4 linked regions of the Homo sapiens genome follow. The protein of the gene in region 2 purifies or fractionates together with the protein of the main gene of each other region. This does not show direct contact. Each region holds a gene or a part of one and is shown on either strand. Other genes may lie near its edges.

Region 1 (4,509 bases), on a different chromosome or scaffold from region 2:
ATCACCACTACATAATTCATCCATGTAACCAAAAACCACTTGTATCTCTAAAGGTATTGGAATAAAAAAATTTAAATAACCCTGAGGTATGTTTTCTACGGGGAAAGCAAGATAAGTGATTTTCTCCCCTTATTTATTAGATTTCAGAATAATGAATTGGTGGTTTTTCATCTACCAAAGACTGGCCATGAAGTGTTTTCTCACTCCACTTAGATTTAAACATATTTGATGTATTTAAATCTGGTGCAGTTGTTTTTCTTGTTTTAGAGACAGGGTCTTGCTATGTTGCCCAGGCTGGTCTTGAACTCCTGGGCTCACGCAATCCTCCCATCTCGGCCTCCCAAAGTGCCACGGCCAGCCTATTTTTCTTATTGATGCTCAAATTATCCCATCTTTGGTCTGTGTAAATGTCTTCAGAGTGATAGCTTCATGCTGTCATTTCAGACAAGATGTTTCAGGCTCATTTTGTACTTTTCCTGCCCCAGACATGAAGTCTGCTTTTCCCCCATGGTACTCTTATTCCTTTTGTTTTAACCATTGTTTCAGAATGCTTGGTGCCTTTGAAGGTAATTGATTATTTTTGCCTACAAATGTGAATATGGTGGCTTGCAGAAAATATGACAAATATAAAAGTAACTAATTTTGTATATTTTAGGGAAATTCTCAATTGCCTATAACTTTTTTTTTCTATAGGAAGTGGAAATTAGTAAGTTTGTGAAGGCATAATTTACTTATGCAACTTGTAAATACATCTTTAGTTAATACAGGGCCAGAATCATTTATGTTTGGAGGTACCTTAATATATAATTTAAAGTATATCATAATGTGTTAATTTTTTTCAAACAATAAATGCTTTTAAAAAATAACTTGTCTATAATTATAAATATCTTTTATTGTAGAATCAAACAGAAGATAGTTTACGAAAGGAACTTATAGCATTACAAGAGGATAAACATAACTATGAGACAACAGCCAAAGAGTCCCTGAGGCGGGTTCTTCAGGAGAAAATTGAAGTGGTTAGAAAACTTTCAGAAGTTGAGGTATTTCAATCAAAAAAAAAATACTAAATAGTATTATGAGTGTTCAAAAAAATCTCAAGCATTCCAGGATACTTTAAACTTGGGTATTATTATATAGTTAGGAAATACTTTCTGTCTGTCAGGTGGGAAGGAACAGTTACGCTGCTTTCATTGACAGCAATTCTCCATGTGAGTTTTGGTACTTACTCCCTAGTCAATGGCTGAGGAAATAAAAGCGTAACCAGGGAATCTTATTGTTTGCATTCTGCTTAGGATTCACCCTCCATACAGCAGACCATGATATGTGCTGGGGAATTGATTTCCTGTCACTTGGTTTTGCTTTGCTTCTATTTGAGGGGGGTCAGTGTAAGGCCAAGAGTCTACACTACTTGTTCTTTTTTAATTCACTCTGCAGAGAGGAAAACTAGCTGTGTCATATATTTAGGAAGTTCAAAGGTGAAATCATCTCCAAGGTCCTTTCTAGGTCTTGGAGGAGCAATCAAAATGCAATTTTTATTGCTTTGGGGAAAAAAATTCTAATTCATAATATAGATCTTTTCTTTGAACCACTGCAAAATTACCACATAAATAATGTATTACTAGAATTAGTTAAAATGCTCATCAGAAACTAAATGGTAAACATACCTTTCCTTACTACAGGTATAGTTTGTATTGCTACCTCATCCCATAGTGCCTGATTCACTGTTGTGTGATTAATTTGATATATAAAGAAAGTTACTAAGTGTCTTTTAATTTTTTATTAAATTGATTGCTGGATATTATTAAACTTGCTTTCAAGGATTGATAGGCTTAAAATATTTTCACAGCTAAAAGTCATACCCATTGGCCTTTCAAAAATGTAATTATATAAAGGCAGCATCCTTTTCCTGCCCCTGCTCTCCCTCCACTTTTATTTTTTTGTTGTTTTTGTTAATTCTTAGTTATGTTTTCTGTTTTAGTGTGAATTGAAATTCTTATGTTATTTGACTCAGCTTTATTTAAAGTCCAGGGCAGATGTTGATTTAGAATAGTCCATAGAATTATACTTTTTATAAATTTCATTTAGAAGGAATTCTAAATAACAAATATACACTTATTCTAATTAAATTGCCTGTAAACTTGAATCGCAGCGAAGTCTGAGTAATACTGAAGATGAATGTACCCATCTGAAAGAAATGAATGAAAGGACTCAGGAAGAATTAAGAGAATTAGCCAACAAATATAATGGAGCAGTTAATGAGATTAAAGATTTATCTGATAAATTAAAGGTATGTATTTACTCTGCCTGAAAGTATGTTAAGCTAATAATCCCTAACACACTAGATAGCTTAAGATTTTAGGTATTGCTTTAGCTGGGCGTGGGGTGGCGGGCGCCTGTAATCCCAGCTTCTCAGGAGGCTGAGGTAGGAGAATTGCTTGAACCCAGGAGACGGAGGTTGCAGCGAGCTGAGATCACGTCACTGCACTCCAGCCTGGGCGACAGAGCGATACTCCATCTCAAAGGAAAAACAAACAAACAAACAAACAAAAAACAGTTTGGGCCAGGCGCAGTGGCTCACGCCTGTAATCCCAGCACTTTGGGAGGCCGAGGCGGGCAGATCATGAGGTCAAGAGATTGAGACCATCCTGGCCAACATGGTGAAACCCCGTCTCTACTAAAAATACAAAAATTAGCTGGGCGTGGTGACACATGCCTGTAGTCCCAGCTCCTTGGGAGTCTAAGGCAGAAGAATCACTTGAACCCAGGAGGCAGAGGTTGCAGTGAGCCAAGATTGCACCACTGCACTCCAGCCTGGCGACAGAGCAAGACTTCGTCTCACAAAAAAAAAAAAAAAAAAAAAATTCAGTTTGAAAACCACTGGTATAGATAGATATTTTGAATTGATTTGCATAGTCTCCTTGAATGTGTTAAATTATGCTGAAAGTATGAAAGCAGGATGTAGGTGGTACTACATATTAAATAAGATTTCTATAAAAAAAGATTTTAGGTATTGCTGAATAGTTATTGATGTAAAAATTTGGTAACAGTTGAAATTTATAGTGAAAATAAGGTGTCTGTATTCCATTTAGCCCAACCTCCATTACTATAGATAATTGAAAGCCTGTAAATGCTGACATAGTTCCTCTGGATGAATATGTAGTCAGTGCTTCACAATAGACATTTCTAAAATATATAACAGGAAGTAGATGAGAATCAGCAAAACCCATGATATTCAGATGTTTTAAAACCTAAAACTGCTTATCATTAGGCCATCTAAAAGGCAGGGCCCAGCTATTTAGTGCTGTGCTGGAACAAGCCCAGAGAGAATCTGGGAATGATCTCCCTTTTAGCTTTCAGGGATGCTGTTAACTCTGCTTTAGCTGCCATTCCCTCTATCTATGAGACATCTAGGATAAGGACAGATCAGATCATAGGGTAATGATAGGGTAATGTCTAGTTGGTCCTTTAGAATCTTATAACTGAGGAAAAAAAAAATCTTATAACTGTTTGTGAAGGTCCATCTTGGTTTAATTCAAACTATGGATTGAGTGCCTAGAAGATATGTGTTTGTTAGAGAAGACCAGAGCATACCTCCGTTGGTTAACCTATGATAGTTTTCAAAGTTGGTCTTGTTAAAAGGAGATTGTCATTGTCCATTTTTGTTGCTATAAAGGAATAGCTGAGCCTGGGTAATTTATAAAGATAAGAGGTTTATTTGGCTCACAGTTCTGCAGGCTGAAGCTTCAGGCTGCTTCCACTGATGGCAGAAAGCAAAGTGGAGCTGGTACGTGTTCCATGGTGAGAGAGGGTCTGGGAGAGGTGCCAGGCTCTTTTTAAAAACCAGCTTTCATAGGACTAATAGAGTGAGAATTCACTCATTACCATGAGGACAGCACCAAGCCATTCATGAGGGATCTGCTCCCATAACCCAAACACCTCTCATTAGACCCCATCTCCAACACTGAGGATCAAATTTCAACATTGAGGCTTGGGGGACGAACATCCAAACTATAGGCAGAGAGGTCTTTTTGAATAGTGATTGTACTGTCATCTCGTTACTAAATAATTTTGTTTAAAATTTCAGAATGTTAACATGATAGAACTTCAAAATTGAAATGATAGTAATTTTAGGGAAAAATCTTACTTCCCTCTTTAAAAATACGATTTTTTTTTCCACATTGACCCTTTACCTCTGTGTGTACTGAGCCTACTTGCTTCCTCCAAGTTTCTCTCTCCTGGGTGTTATGGAGGAATAACCCAATGCAGATAATTTTTGACATCAAGCCTTTGTCTTTATCATCTTTACTGGTTTAGAAATGTCAGGTTAGCCGGGCGCAGTGGCTCATGCCTGTAATCCCAGCACTTTGGGAGGCCAAGGTGGGCTGATCATCTGAGGTCAGGCGTTCGAGACCAGCCTGACCAACATGGAGAAACCCCGTCTCTTCTAAAAATACAAAATTAGCTGGGTATGGTGGCGCATGCCTGTAATCCCAGCTACTTGGGAGGCTG
Region 2 (5,520 bases):
GGAGGCAGAGGTTGCAGTGAGCCAAGATTGCACCACTACACTCCAGCCTGGGTGACAGAGTGAGAAGCCATCTCAAAAACATTTAAAAAAGGGTCGAGGCTTGAGGACACACCTCTGCTGGCTTCCCCTGGACTCTGGGCCTGGGCCACAGACCCCAGGCACCTTCCACACCACTGGCTCAGAAACTTTTAGGCATTGCTTCTTTAAATCTGAGGACTGTGTGAGGCAGCTTTCTGCATCAAGAAAGCATCAAGTTTCTAACTCCGCGCTGGTGTAGCTGTCAGGAGGACTTATGGAGGGGTGAGGGAAGCCCTTTCTAAATACGTGACTTTCAGGAGTGGAGGAGAACTTGGTTAACACATACTGAGGTTTTTTGTTTTTGATGAGGTTTTTTTTTTTAAATTTTTTATTTTTTTGAGACCTAGTTTCGCTCTTGTTGCCCAGGCTGGAGTGCGATGGTGCGATCTCGGCTCACCGCAACCTCCGCTTCCCTGATTCAAGTGATTCTTCTGTCTTGGACTCTCAAGTAGCTCGGATCACAGGCATACGCAACCTCGCCCGGCTAATTTTTTTTGTATTCAGTAGAGATGGGGTTTTACCATGTTAGTCAGGCTGGTTGCGAACTCCTGACTTCAGGTGATCAACCCGCCTTGGCCTCCCAGAGTGCTGGGATTTCAGGTGTGCACCACCAAGCCTGGCCTGATGAGTTTATTTTTTAGTAATTTCAGATTTATAACAAATTAAGTAAGAGCTCCCAAATCCCCCCTCACCCCCAGGGGCCATTCACCTATTAACATCTGTCACGGGGCTGGCATGTTGTTCGGGTTAGATGAGGCAACCTTCATGCCGTGTCATCACCTAAAGCTCCTGTTTCCAGCAGGGTTCATCGAGTTGGCCTGGCCTCTTTATACTTTCTGGGGACTTTTTCCCTTGCATGGAAAGTTCAGTTTAGGTTTTTTTGTTGTTGTTATTTGTTTGTTTGTTTGTTTTTTTAATGGAGTTTGATTCTTGTTGCCCAGGTTGGAGTGCAATGGTGCGGTCTTGGCTCACTGCAACCTCCGCCTCCCGGGTTCAAGCAATTCTCCTGCCTCAGCCTCCTGAGTAGCTGGGATTACAGGCATGAGCCGCCACGCCCAGATAATTTTTTTGTATTAGAGATGGGGTTTCACCATGCTGGCCAGGCTGGTCTCGAACTCCTGACCTCAAGTGATCCACCTGCCTCGGCCTCCCAAAGTGCTAGAATTACAGGCGTGAGCCACCACGCCCGGCCAAGTTTAGTTTTTGAACAAAAAGGGAGAAAGGAAGAAACCAGAGAAGAATTGAGGTGCGCTCCCTTGGACTCCCCCTTCCCTACAGGTCCCTTCCTCCCCAGCAGGGCAGCCTCTGCCTGTCCCCCGCCTCTTGTGACCGGCGCTGTCTGCCCTCTGTCCCCGCCCTGGCCCCACAGCACTCTCGAGTGGACCCTGAGGAGCTCTTCACCAAGCTCGACCGCATTGGCAAGGGCTCGTTTGGGGAGGTCTACAAGGGCATCGATAACCACACAAAGGAGGTGGTGGCCATCAAGATCATCGACCTGGAGGAGGCCGAGGATGAGATCGAGGACATCCAGCAGGAGATCACTGTCCTCAGTCAGTGCGACAGCCCCTACATCACCCGCTACTTTGGCTCCTACCTAAAGGTGCCTGTTGTGGGGAGGCGGGGACCCTGCTGGTGCTGTGCCCGGCTCTCTTCCATGTCAGAGGGACTGAGTGACATGCCAGAGGGTGCAAGGCGGTCTTGACGGTTCAGTGCATGCCCTCCGGGAAACTGCCCTGGGCAGGCAGGGTGTGAGCCCTCGTCCACGAGGGTCAGTTGGCTCTAAATGGCCATTGGGACCCACTTGCCTGCCTGTGGTAATGCAGTGAGGGCGCTGCTAGGAGCACTCTGGGGGGCCCCTACTGGCAGTGGTGAGTGGGCCTGTGAGGAGCAGGTGGCTGGTGGTGCCAGTGTCTGGGGTGTAGGGAACGCTGTGGCCATCCTGCCCAGGAGGGTGATGGGTGTGTCGGGTCACATGCTTGCCAGCCATGCCCTCTTCCCAGCCCTGTAGGACTGGATCAGCAGCCTGGTTTTTGATGGGGTCTTGGTGAAGTGGAGTCAGCCACTGCTGTGTGTACTCAACCTGTCCTCTGAGCATCTGTAGCAGTAGTGTGGCAGGAGGGGAAGATGGGCAAGGCCGAGAGAGCCCTTTCCTGTTCAGGGTTCTTGGCAGGGATGGGACCGGTGGGGCCTGGGCCCTGGCTGACTCCGGCCTGTGACTCCCACCCTGGAGCATGCCCTTCCTCTTGCTGCCAAATGCTGATGGGTTTGTCTCCGGTCCCAGAGCACCAAGCTATGGATCATCATGGAGTACCTGGGCGGCGGCTCAGCACTGGACTTGGTGAGGCATAGGCCATGGCAGTGGGGGGTCATGCAGTGTCCGAGTCCCCTGCCCCTCAGACTCATGGGCTCCAGGGGCCACCTCTCGTTTGGTGTCATGGCACGTTAGGTGTTAATTAGGAATCGTCTAAAGCAAAAATGAACTGCCATCTGCACGTCTGCCCAGTTGGTGCTGAAAGGGGTCCTGGCCTGTGGGAGTGGGCGGGGGCAGGCCTGCTGGGAGATGGCTGGGAGCCTATTTTTCTGTTACATGACAGTAAGGTGAGGCTGGTTTATATGCTTTAGAAAGAGCCTCCACCACCCCACTCCCATCTGAAACTTAGTTCTGTTTGGGAAGTAAAGGAACACGAAGCCCCCAGCTATCTGCAGGGACAGCCCTTCCCTGTGAGAGAGGCAGAGAACTCAGGCATTGGGCCTGGGACAGGAGCTGAGGCCCTGCTGTCGCACCTTCCTCTCCAGCTTAAACCAGGTCCCCTGGAGGAGACATACATTGCCACGATCCTGCGGGAGATTCTGAAGGGCCTGGATTATCTGCACTCCGAACGCAAGATCCACCGAGACATCAAAGGTCCTGCTGGGGGTGGATGTGGCTCTTGTAACGTCCTGAGCCCCACTGACCTTAGAGAGGCCGGGGCCTGTGAGGGGCAAGTGGCTAGTGGTGCCCAGGGTCTGGAGTATAGAGAACCTTGTGGCCACCCTGAAACTGAGCAGTCCTGTCTCGCTCCCTTTCCAGAAGATACTACTTGTAACGGTTTCCTTGTACGCTGAGGAAACCAGCTGTGGACTGAGTGTAGGAAAGGGCCACACTTGGCTGGAGTTGTTGGTTCCCTGTGGTGCACGGCACAGCAGCAGGTGTAGAATTGAGTAGCCCCAGCGTGTGGTCTGGCCCTGCTGAGAGCAGACGGGAGGCTGGGCCAGCCCATGGGGAGGGACTTGCCACTGGCAACGAGCCATCTCTGTCATGTAGGGGACGATTCTGGTGGAGCAGGGGGCTTCCTGGCAGGCCCGTGTTGGCTACACCCTTGGTCAGGGTCACCTCTGCGGTAGCCCCCAGTGGGCGAAGTCGCTTGTCGTTGGGATTTGTCGTAAAAGCCAAATGCAGGAAGAGCCCTGGAGCTCGGAGTGGAGCCGTTGGGCTCCTGCTGGCAGTGCCCCTGTGGCCCTAGGTGGCCCTGGGTTTGAGAGTGGCAAGGAGGGCTGAGGTCCTGAGGACAGCCCTGCTGTGCCCTAGGAGGCCAGGTGGATGGTACCCTGGCCCTTCTCAGGGGGCCCGGGGTGGAGCCACGTGGAGCCTGGGATGACGCCTGCCTGTCCTGTGTCAAGCAGCTGCCAACGTGCTACTCTCGGAGCAGGGTGACGTGAAGCTGGCGGACTTTGGGGTAGCAGGGCAGCTCACAGACACGCAGATTAAGAGGAACACATTCGTGGGCACCCCCTTCTGGATGGCACCTGAGGTCATCAAGCAGTCGGCCTACGACTTCAAGGTGGGTGCAGCGGGCGGGCAGGTGCGGGCACCATGCCTGGCTCGGGTGCTCAGGGCAGCAACAGTCCTTGTGTTCTGTCCAGGCTGACATCTGGTCCCTGGGGATCACAGCCATCGAGCTGGCCAAGGGGGAGCCTCCAAACTCTGACCTCCACCCCATGCGCGTCCTGTTCCTGATTCCCAAGAACAGCCCACCCACACTGGAGGGCCAGCACAGCAAGCCCTTCAAGGAGTTCGTGGAGGCCTGCCTCAACAAAGACCCCCGATTCGTAAGGCCCGCCTCTGGCCCGGTCCCTTCTAGACAGGACGTGGAGGGAGGGCGTTCGCTTGGGGTGGGCGGCACAGCCCGGAGGCCCAGGCCCACCAGCCTTGTAGCTGTGAGGGCCCGCCCCGGTCCAGGCTGCCTCACGTTTGCTTCCCTTAGGCAGAGCTTGGCTGGGCCCAGTGACTAGTGTTCCCCTGACCCCCTGCAGCGGCCCACGGCCAAGGAGCTCCTGAAGCACAAGTTCATCACACGCTACACCAAGAAGACCTCCTTCCTCACGGAGCTCATCGACCGCTATAAGCGCTGGAAGTCAGAGGGGCATGGCGAGGAGTCCAGCTCTGAGGACTCTGACATGTAGGGACCTGGTTTATCCTCATGGTGACCCTAGGTGCTGTGACGTGGGTGGTCCCCACTCCAGAAGCAGGGGCGTGGGCCCTGGGGGTGAGGGTGACCAGATATAGTGTTGGGCAGGGACCCCCTCAAGGCTGCAGGACAGGGCCTGCTGAGGCATCAGCTGGACCCCGTGGCCTGGCAGAGCCCCGTCTGGTACCTCGGGTTTCCCTTGGCCGTGAGGTGTGCCCTGAGGCCCTCATGCCTCCTGGCCCTCTCCCCACTGGCCCTGGCAACTCCTCATCCTCTTCAGTGATGGCGAGGCGGAGGACGGGGAGCAGGGCCCCATCTGGACGTTCCCCCCTACCATCCGGCCGAGTCCACACAGCAAGCTTCACAAGGGGACGGCCCTGCACAGTTCACAGAAGGTCTGTTCCTGGCCTGGCCTTTGCCCTCTGTGCACCCCTGGGGCCGTGGGATGGGCTGGATGCGGGACCCAGCTTTGTCCACCCAGTGTCTGGAGCTTGGACAAGGAGCTTGGGAAAGGCAGGGGTGGTCTGAAGCCCACTGTGGCACTAGGCCTGGTGTGGAGACCCCGAGCCCCAGCATGTGCCGGGAAGATGAGGGCCTGTTTGGAGCCAAATTTGTGAGGAGAGGGTGGGAGTCACAGGCCCTCAGAGTCAGGAGAGGGTGGGAGTCACAAGCCCTCAGAGTCAGGAGAGGGTGGGAGTCACAGGCCCTCAGAGTCAGGAGAGGGTGGGAGTCACAGGCCCTCAGAGTCAGGAGAGGGTGGGAGTCGCCCTCAGAGTCAGGCCATCCGGGTGGCTTGATGGTTTTGGGGCCGGCCCTGGACATGTGCCCCGACAGGCTGCTCCCAGCCTCTGTCTCTTCAAGGCTAGAGCCTGGGCAGGGATGGGAGTGCCCTGCCTGTCACCTGCACTGCCCTGCTCACCCTGGGCCTCCACTCCTTTGCAGCCTGCGGAGCCCGTCAAGAGGCAGCCGAGGTCCCAGTGCCTGTCCACGCTGG
Region 3 (3,349 bases), on a different chromosome or scaffold from region 2:
GAAGTCTGAAATCAAGCAGGCTTGGTCCTTTCTGGAGCCCGTGAAGAACCCATTCCATGCCTCTCTTGCAGCTTCTGGTGGTGGCTAGCAGTCCTTGCGTAACTCATTGCCTCTGTCCTCATGCTGCTATATCTGTGTTTCATATCTCCTCCTCTCTTATTGTAACGACACTAGTCACTGGGTTTGGAGCCCACCCAAAATCCAGGGTAATTATATCCTGAGATCCCCTAATCACATCTGTAAAGACTATTTCCAAATATGGTCACCTTCCCAGGTGTATCAAGTTAGGACTTAGACTTACCTTCTAGGGGACATGATTCAACCTACTACAAATGGTAAGAAGTTCTGCAGGATCCACACTAAGAAGCTGCTAATTCCTAAGGAATACAGATAGAGGTCACTGCTAAGTAGTTTTGCACTAAGAAGAGACAAAAAACCTTAAAATTAAACCATATATAAGAATAAGGGTAAGCACTTTTCAAATTAAATTGGAGACCATACCAATTTTAATCATTCATCTTTAATAATAAAATAGGTTCCTATGCAGTACATACCTCAAACATAAACTTAAGGTTCTGTTTAACAACAACCAAAAAAAAAAAAAAAATAGGATGGAAATGTGTCACTAAATAACAAAGTAAATGTCTTTAAACATGAAGACCTTAAATTCATATCCAAGCAAAAAGACGAAGAATAAGTTAACCCAACTTGTTTACAAAAATAATTATTTATCAAGTAAGCTTTTATAGTAGAGCTGCCTCAATGAACTGCCTCAGACTTAATCTCAATGGTGTAGCTTGAAATAGATTTCCTTTATTAGCAGGGATAAGAAGTATCTGAATGAATGTGTCATTAAATTAAGGAATACTTTCCCAAAAACAATAAAAAGTTTAAAAATAAAAACTGTCATTTATTTATAAAATATCAAATAAGGCCTCTGACTGAAAAAAAGAAATCTATATAATGTTTGGGCCATTAGCCCTTTTCTATTCAATCAGTCTCATCCACCCCATTCACCCCAAACTTAAGATAAAAAAATTCTCAAGTGTAGTTTTGAATTTTACCAATATATGAAATTATACATAAAATTACCATATAAAGTAATATTTAACAAATTATATACTCAAAGTATAATTTTCCATTTGTCTTAATTTTAATACGTATTCAACATAAATGAGTACAATATATTTAACCATGTTTGACACTCTTCTTTTATCCCTTTTTAATACAATCACCACAACATAAGAAAATTTAGGTTTCAACTGATGTTAAAGCACATTTCTGTATCTGGTGGTTTTTAAAAAAATTACATATTATATATTTGACATTTTAAAAGACAACAGAAACAAATCCACAGATTACTCCACCTTTACCCCCACTTTCAGCTGAAAGGTTTTAAGAAAAATCTTGCAGGTTATGAGGACCAGATGGAGCTTAAAAACAGATCCGGAACTTTTTTTTTGAAATTGTATTTACTTTTTTTTTTTGTATCTCAAGAATACTTAAAGGAAAAAAAAAAGGGTTCTATGAGCCAGAGGAATTCCCAATTCACTTTGAAATTACCATACCTATCTTGCCATATCAAACATTTCAATTCTGTTAACTAAATGAACTACATAATATCCTTAAAAATCAGCCAGAGAAGAGAAAAACAAATCTCGTCTTCATTATTGACTTTGAACCAAAACTTATTCTTTCAAAGGAGTAGTTTAACCTACTAAATATGTCTATTATAAGATCTTCTTTCTTAGAAAGTAGTATTCCTTCTTTTTCATTCCTGAAATGGTATTTCTTACACTTAAACAAGTTATGGACAATTGTTAGCTAAGTATCAGTTATGATAAATTGCTAAAATTAAATTATCTGTTTAAGGTACATATAACACATTCCTATAGCCTTTAAAACTGTATTTTCTTTCACAAAAATTTAAATAAATGTGAAAGTAGGCAATCACTAGAAGTCTCATGGTACATAAACTTTGCATCAACTTTGACGCCAAATAAGGATGAAATTTAGCGTACAAATCCTCCGTTCACAAAACAGTGGCAAAAATTTATATTTTTAAATTGGTATAATTTTATGCATTCTCAAACATTTACTGGGAATATTCAAGTTTACCTAATTAATCACCCAGAAAGCCAGCAGTACTGCCAAAAGCTCTTGGTATATTCAGTAGTCACTGTGAAAACTTTTCATTTCTTTACCATTTGGCAATGGCTCAGTTTCTATTTTCCAATTATGTTTTGGAATAAAGTCTATGACCATTAACTATGCATTTTTTGTTGCTATCTCATAGCCCGTGCACTGTACATATTTACAGAGAAAAAAATAAAGGATTGAATTTTCTGTCCATTCATTCATTCACTTATTTGACCATTTGGAGCCATGTAAGAAGCTCACAGACTCAGAAACTCTTCAGCTCTTCCTCAGACTCAAATCACTGTTGGTCACTAATGCTGACAAAGAAGTACTTTCCGACGCATCATCTTTCCTTAGGTTCAAAAATGATTCTCGAGTTATTTGAAGGATCTCTCTCAAGCCTTTGTTTTCTTGCTAAAAGGCAAGCAAAAACAAAGATGCAGTCACTATCTACAAGGTAGCTACAACATCACAAACATATGTTAGGAAAAACTGAACATATGAAGGTATAACAAACAAGCAAGGTCTGTAATTGGCATTAATCTACTCAATGATATATGCAGTTGGCAACTTGAATCTAAAGAACACTTATGCAGCTAGGAATCGTGTTCAACATCTTCCACCACTGCAAAGCCTTCTTACTTAAGCAGCTATAATTGTAAACAGAAGCTCAGAAATTGCCTTATTTTACAATCACATTAGAGATGAAGAAAATAACATCTAGATTTATTTTTATATAAACTCGTAAAGCCAGTGAATAGGCTAGAATCTCCTAGTAATTTTTAGTATTTTTATTACTTTCCATGATAGCATGGAATGTAGGACAAGTTTAGCTCATTGGCATTTGAGAGCAGCAGGGTAGGGGTAGCTGATGATATTTTTCAAGAAGGAAAGTAAGTGACCAAATCTGGCACTGGTAAATAACTTTGCTTTCTGGCCTCCTTTTGGTTAGTTACTGTAAAAAAATTTGTAGACATTTAACAATAACCTTTCATAATTTGTTCTCTATCACTTTATCTTCAGTCTCACTTTCTAAATTTTAGTAGTCTAAAGCAGGTTCCCCGCCGTGATTTCAAAATGAAGCTCTTAAGGCATAAAAGTCTATTGTACTGATTTCAGTTATTCAGAGACTGGTACTTTCACTGTCATAAAATAAAGGACAGATGACAAAGGTTTTTAGAATCCCCAGAAAAATAAGAGTGCCCCTAAA
Region 4 (4,509 bases), on a different chromosome or scaffold from region 2:
TTTTTACACAAATATAGCCTGTTTTAATTGTCTTCCCAACCCTATTTGAGGCAGAGACTCTGCGTGAGAGGGAAAGGGTTGAAGAAACTCAGTGTTTTTCAAACTCTGAGATCCATTAATGGATGGGGAAACTAACTGAGCCACGACTAGAATTTTAAAAAAATATATAAACAGAAAACATCAATGTGTACTGTAGCAGTAGGGGTTATATATGATTTCATGAGATTTTTGTTTCAGGCGTAACTGTGTATGTCTACATATACTGGGTTGTGACATAAAATGTCACTTCTTACTGGGGGTTCTAAGTCAAAAGTTTGAGAGCTACAAGCGCTAAGTTACCATTCCCCAAAGAGTGTTCTACGGAACAATAATAATCCCACAGTGAGGGATCTATGCCAATAAAAGATTTTATAAAACCATGGATTTGCTAAACACAGAATACCCTATCTTGTTCTTGAAGACTCACAATGTGCTTCTGCATACTAAAGATCCTAACAAAGTTAGAAACCTGTTTAACTTTGCTTAATCCAGTAGTTCCTAAACTTATTTGACCACAAAGCCCCTTTTCTGAACAATACCAGTTGGCATCCTGCAGAATAATCTTTGGGAAATGCTGTTCCAGGCAAATGCTACTGTGAATCCCTCTACCTTAATTACCTGTTGAGTCAGCCTCTCTCTTTCCTTCTCTAGCATGTAGGTGACATCATCTCCTTCAGCCGTATCCTGTGCATGCCGCTGCCTTTCTTCCTCAAGGTCTAGGATCACCTTTAAAGAATTTTTTAAATTTCATTTTCAAATATCAAGGAGTCACATTTATTAATACAACCAATAATAAGTGCCAAATCAGGCACCTTAGATAGTTCCAGAGATCAAACAAACAAACGAATAAATGAAACCCAGCAAGGGCTATCAAGGAGCACACTGCCTTACAGTGAAAGACATGAAAGCTCTGTGTTAAACAGTAAGATACTTACTTTACTTGAAGTATGTAGAGAATGATATGCAAACAGAGAGAAGAGAGCAACTAATTAGCTAGAGGGGTTGAGGAGGTGTCGAGAATTAACAGAAATTCCAAGAAACTGCAGGCAGTTTGGTGTTACTAGGGGCCAGGTGTAGGTGATGGAGCAAGACAGGACCACAGAAACCTGAAAGCTGAGATTTTCTTCTCAATTCTCAAATCACCAGAGGCACCAAAGAAGGAGCCTGAAATTCAACATTTCAAATAGGTGACATTCTAAGTGTGCCTTGTTTAACTAATAATATACATTTTTATATAGTTAGATAAGAGGTGGATAGACTCTCTTGACTTCCTACTGCATGTAAAAAGGCTCAAATATAGAGACCTTAAATGGAGATTTTTCATACGCCCTTTTATTTAACTTGCCTACCCCTATTTCACTTACCCTGGTGCCAAAGGATTAAGCCCAATTTTAAGGAGAAGACAAATATATTTATTTTTCGAGACAGGGTCTTGCTTTGTCACCCAGGCTGGACTGTAGTAGTGCAATCATGGCTCACTGCTGCCTTGGCCTCCCGAGCTCAAGAGATTCTCCCACCTCTCAGCCTCCCAAGTAGCTGGGACTACAGGTGTGCGCCACCACGCCCAGCTGATTTTAGTATTTTTTGTAGAGATGGGGTTTTGCCATCTTGCCCAGGCTGGTCTGGAACTCCTGGGCTCAAGTGATCCACCCGCCTCAGCCTCCCAAAATGCTGGGATTACAGGTGTGAGCCATCACACATGGCCAAGAATACAAATTTAAAGAGACATTTTTCACATAATCCCATCTACAACTGCAAATATTCTGATTGCTTAGTAGCTTCTGCTCATGCTTCAGAAGTGCCTTGGCCCAGACCTCCAGGGTAGAGCACTCTTGTCCCAAAGGCCATTTCTTAGTCTTCTCACTAAAAATTTTTATGAGTGAAGAGAGTAAATTTTCTGGGACATGAAACCTGTCTATAAAAATAAAAATGAGCTCATGCCTGTAATCCCAGCACTTTTGGGAGGCAGAGGCAGGAGGATTGCTTGAGCACAGGAGTTTGAGACCAGCCATTTATTTCTCCCTCTCCCTCTCCCTCCCCCACCCCCTTCCTTCCTTTTGAGGAGACAGGGTCTTACTCTCACCCAAGCTGAAATGCAGTGGCATCATCTCGGCTCACTGCAATCTTTGCCTCCTAGGCTCAAGTGATCCTCCCACCTCAGCCTCCTGAGCAGCTGAGACTACAGGCATACACCACTATGGCCTGCTGATTTTTTGTAGAAATGGGGTGTCGCCATGTTGCCCAGGCTGGTCTCAAACACCTGGACTCAAGTGGTCCTTCTGCCTCAGCTTCCCAAAGTGATGGGATTACAGGTGTGACCCACTGTGCCCAACCCAAAACCCCATTTCTACAAAAAAGTACAAAAATTAGCCAGGCATGGTGAGGTGTGCATGTAGTCCCAGCTACTCAGGAGGCTGAGGTGGAAGGATCACCTCAGCCCAGGGAGGTCGAGGTTGCAGTGAGCCATGATTATGCCGTTGCACTCCAGCCCAGGCAACGGAGTGAGACTTTGTCTCAAAAAAAAAAAAAGAGGCCAGGAGTGGTGGCTCATGCCTGTAATCTCAGCACTTTGGGAGGCCAAAGCAGGTGGATCACCTGAGGTTGGGAGTTCGAGACCAGCCTGACCAACATGGAGAAACCCTGTCTCTACTAAAAATACAAAATTAGCCAGGCATGGTGGCACATGCCTGTAATCCCAGCTACTCGGGAGGCTGAGGCAGGAGAATCGCTTGAACCCAGTAGGCAGAGGTTGTGGTGAGCCAAGATTGTGCCATTGCACTCCAGCCTGAGCAACAAGAGTGAAACTCTGTCTAAAAAAAAAAAAAAAAAAAAAAAAAAAGAAGAGACTGGTGCTGTGGTGTATGCTTGTAGTCCCAGATACTAGGGAGGCTGAGGTGGATCACTGGAGCCCAAGAGTTCCAGGCTATAGGGTGCTATGATCGCACCTGTTAATAGCCACTGTACTCCCGCCCAGGCAACACAGCGAGACCCTGTCTCTCAAAATAAATGAAAGAAAAAAAATTTGGCACATTTCCTTTTTTTAATCTAATTTTTCAATTTAATAGAAAGACATGCTTTTGGCCAAAAGTGGTAAGTCTTATCTTCTCCCTTTTGGGAGTCCTCAAAAATTACAGAAATGGAATAAAAAGACTAAAACCCCACAAAGGAGAGAGCCTCTAGCAGAGAAAAAATTTTAATAATATTTTGAAGAAGAAAAGAGGCTGGAGTTGTGGTAACTACTTTACTTTGAAGGAGGGAAGCTGTTTTGCCTTGCAGAGCCCCAAAGAGATGGAACCTGGAGGTGGCAGGTACTGCAGAGGAGAGGTGAAATGTAGAATAGAAAACAGGAGAACTGGCTCAAAGCCTGTTTTTTTGTTTGTTTGTTTTGTGTTTTTTTTTTTTTTTTTGAGACAGTCTTGCTCTGTCACCCAAGCTGGATTACAGTGGTGTGATCTCAGCTCACTGCAACCTCCACCTCCTGGGCTCAAGCTATTCTTCTGCCTCAGCCTCCCGAGTAGCTGGGATTACAGGAACGCCACCATGCCTGGCTAATTTTTGTATTTTTAGCAGAGATGGGGTTTCACCATGTTGGCTGGCCTGGCCTCGAACTCCTGACCTCAAGTGATCTGCCTGTCTTGGCCTCCCAAAGTGCTGGGATTACAGGCATGAGTCACTGTGTCTGGCCTTCAAAGCCTGTATTTTCAGAATTATTTGTCCCTTCACCCTGATTCCTGCACACAGACCATCAGCATCTGGCCTCTGTCACATCTACTATTCCCAAATCCTGAGCCTGTCACATTCAAGAAATAGTGTGACAGGCTCAGGATTTGGGAATAGTAGATGTGACAGAGAATGGTGGTGGGAAAAGAGGATTAAATTTGTTCTGGGTAAGGGTTAAGGAGAGGAAAGGGAGGCGGGGTGTAAGATAACTAAATCTGCACCTATATAAAAGAAAGTAATATAAATGTCTAAAATTGATAAAGCAAGAGAGAACAGTGCAGTATTTAGAAATATGGAGGTTAGCTACCAAAGTGAATGGCTAAAAGAAAAAACTGGTTGCCTGTGAATACTGGGGAGGATGGGGAATGAGAAGAGGTGGAATAGAAAACTGTTTTTCATTGTAAGCACAATGACCATGTAATTTATTATTCAAACCAGAACATTTCTGACAGTCAAAGGGAATATGGTTAATAACTAAGCCAAGGTGACAGGCATAAGCTGAGACTATGAGCACCCTAATTATAAGCCTCTAGGTACTGTTTGATTTCTAACAAAGTCAGTCTTCTACTTTGATAAACCACTTAAACTTGAACCTGGGAGGTGGTGGTTGCAGTGAGCCAAGATTGTACCACTGCACTCCAGCCTGGGTGACAGAGTGAGACTTCACCTCAAAAAAAAAAAAAAAAAGAATAGATAGGTACTTTGTTTCAAAAATTTAATATTCACTTAAAACATTTAGCACTGCAATAT

Evidence for each region. Proteins that work in one complex are often made in the same cells at the same time.
Region 1: the proteins of STK25 (region 2) and SLMAP purify together in Homo sapiens (affinity purification with mass spectrometry; 5 studies listed by BioGRID and IntAct, with this or other methods). This does not show direct contact.
Region 3: the proteins of STK25 (region 2) and FGFR1OP2 purify together in Homo sapiens (affinity purification with mass spectrometry; 5 studies listed by BioGRID and IntAct, with this or other methods). This does not show direct contact.
Region 4: the proteins of STK25 (region 2) and CTTNBP2NL purify together in Homo sapiens (affinity purification with mass spectrometry; 8 studies listed by BioGRID and IntAct, with this or other methods). This does not show direct contact.

What each region holds. Positions count from the first base shown.
Region 1 is NC_000003.12:57,859,800-57,864,308, forward strand, and holds part of SLMAP (sarcolemmal membrane-associated protein), read left to right. Parts: intron 1-899; coding exon 900-1,040; intron 1,041-2,149; coding exon 2,150-2,287; intron 2,288-4,509. UniProt on the Homo sapiens protein: Associates with the striatin-interacting phosphatase and kinase (STRIPAK) core complex, forming the extended (SIKE1:SLMAP)STRIPAK complex.
Region 2 is NC_000002.12:241,497,636-241,503,155, reverse strand, and holds part of STK25 (serine/threonine-protein kinase 25), read left to right. Parts: intron 1-1,447; coding exon 1,448-1,678; intron 1,679-2,359; coding exon 2,360-2,416; intron 2,417-2,874; coding exon 2,875-2,983; intron 2,984-3,741; coding exon 3,742-3,899; intron 3,900-3,981; coding exon 3,982-4,167; intron 4,168-4,371; coding exon 4,372-4,517; intron 4,518-4,806; coding exon 4,807-4,921; intron 4,922-5,468; coding exon 5,469-5,520. UniProt on the Homo sapiens protein: Oxidant stress-activated serine/threonine kinase that may play a role in the response to environmental stress.
Region 3 is NC_000012.12:26,963,800-26,967,148, reverse strand, and holds the end of FGFR1OP2 (FGFR1 oncogene partner 2), read right to left. Parts: intron 2,554-3,349; coding exon 2,416-2,553; 3' UTR 501-2,415; downstream 1-500. UniProt on the Homo sapiens protein: May be involved in wound healing pathway.
Region 4 is NC_000001.11:112,450,705-112,455,213, reverse strand, and holds part of CTTNBP2NL (CTTNBP2 N-terminal-like protein), read right to left. Parts: intron 766-4,509; coding exon 658-765; intron 1-657. UniProt on the Homo sapiens protein: Regulates lamellipodial actin dynamics in a CTTN-dependent manner. Associates with core striatin-interacting phosphatase and kinase (STRIPAK) complex to form CTTNBP2NL-STRIPAK complexes.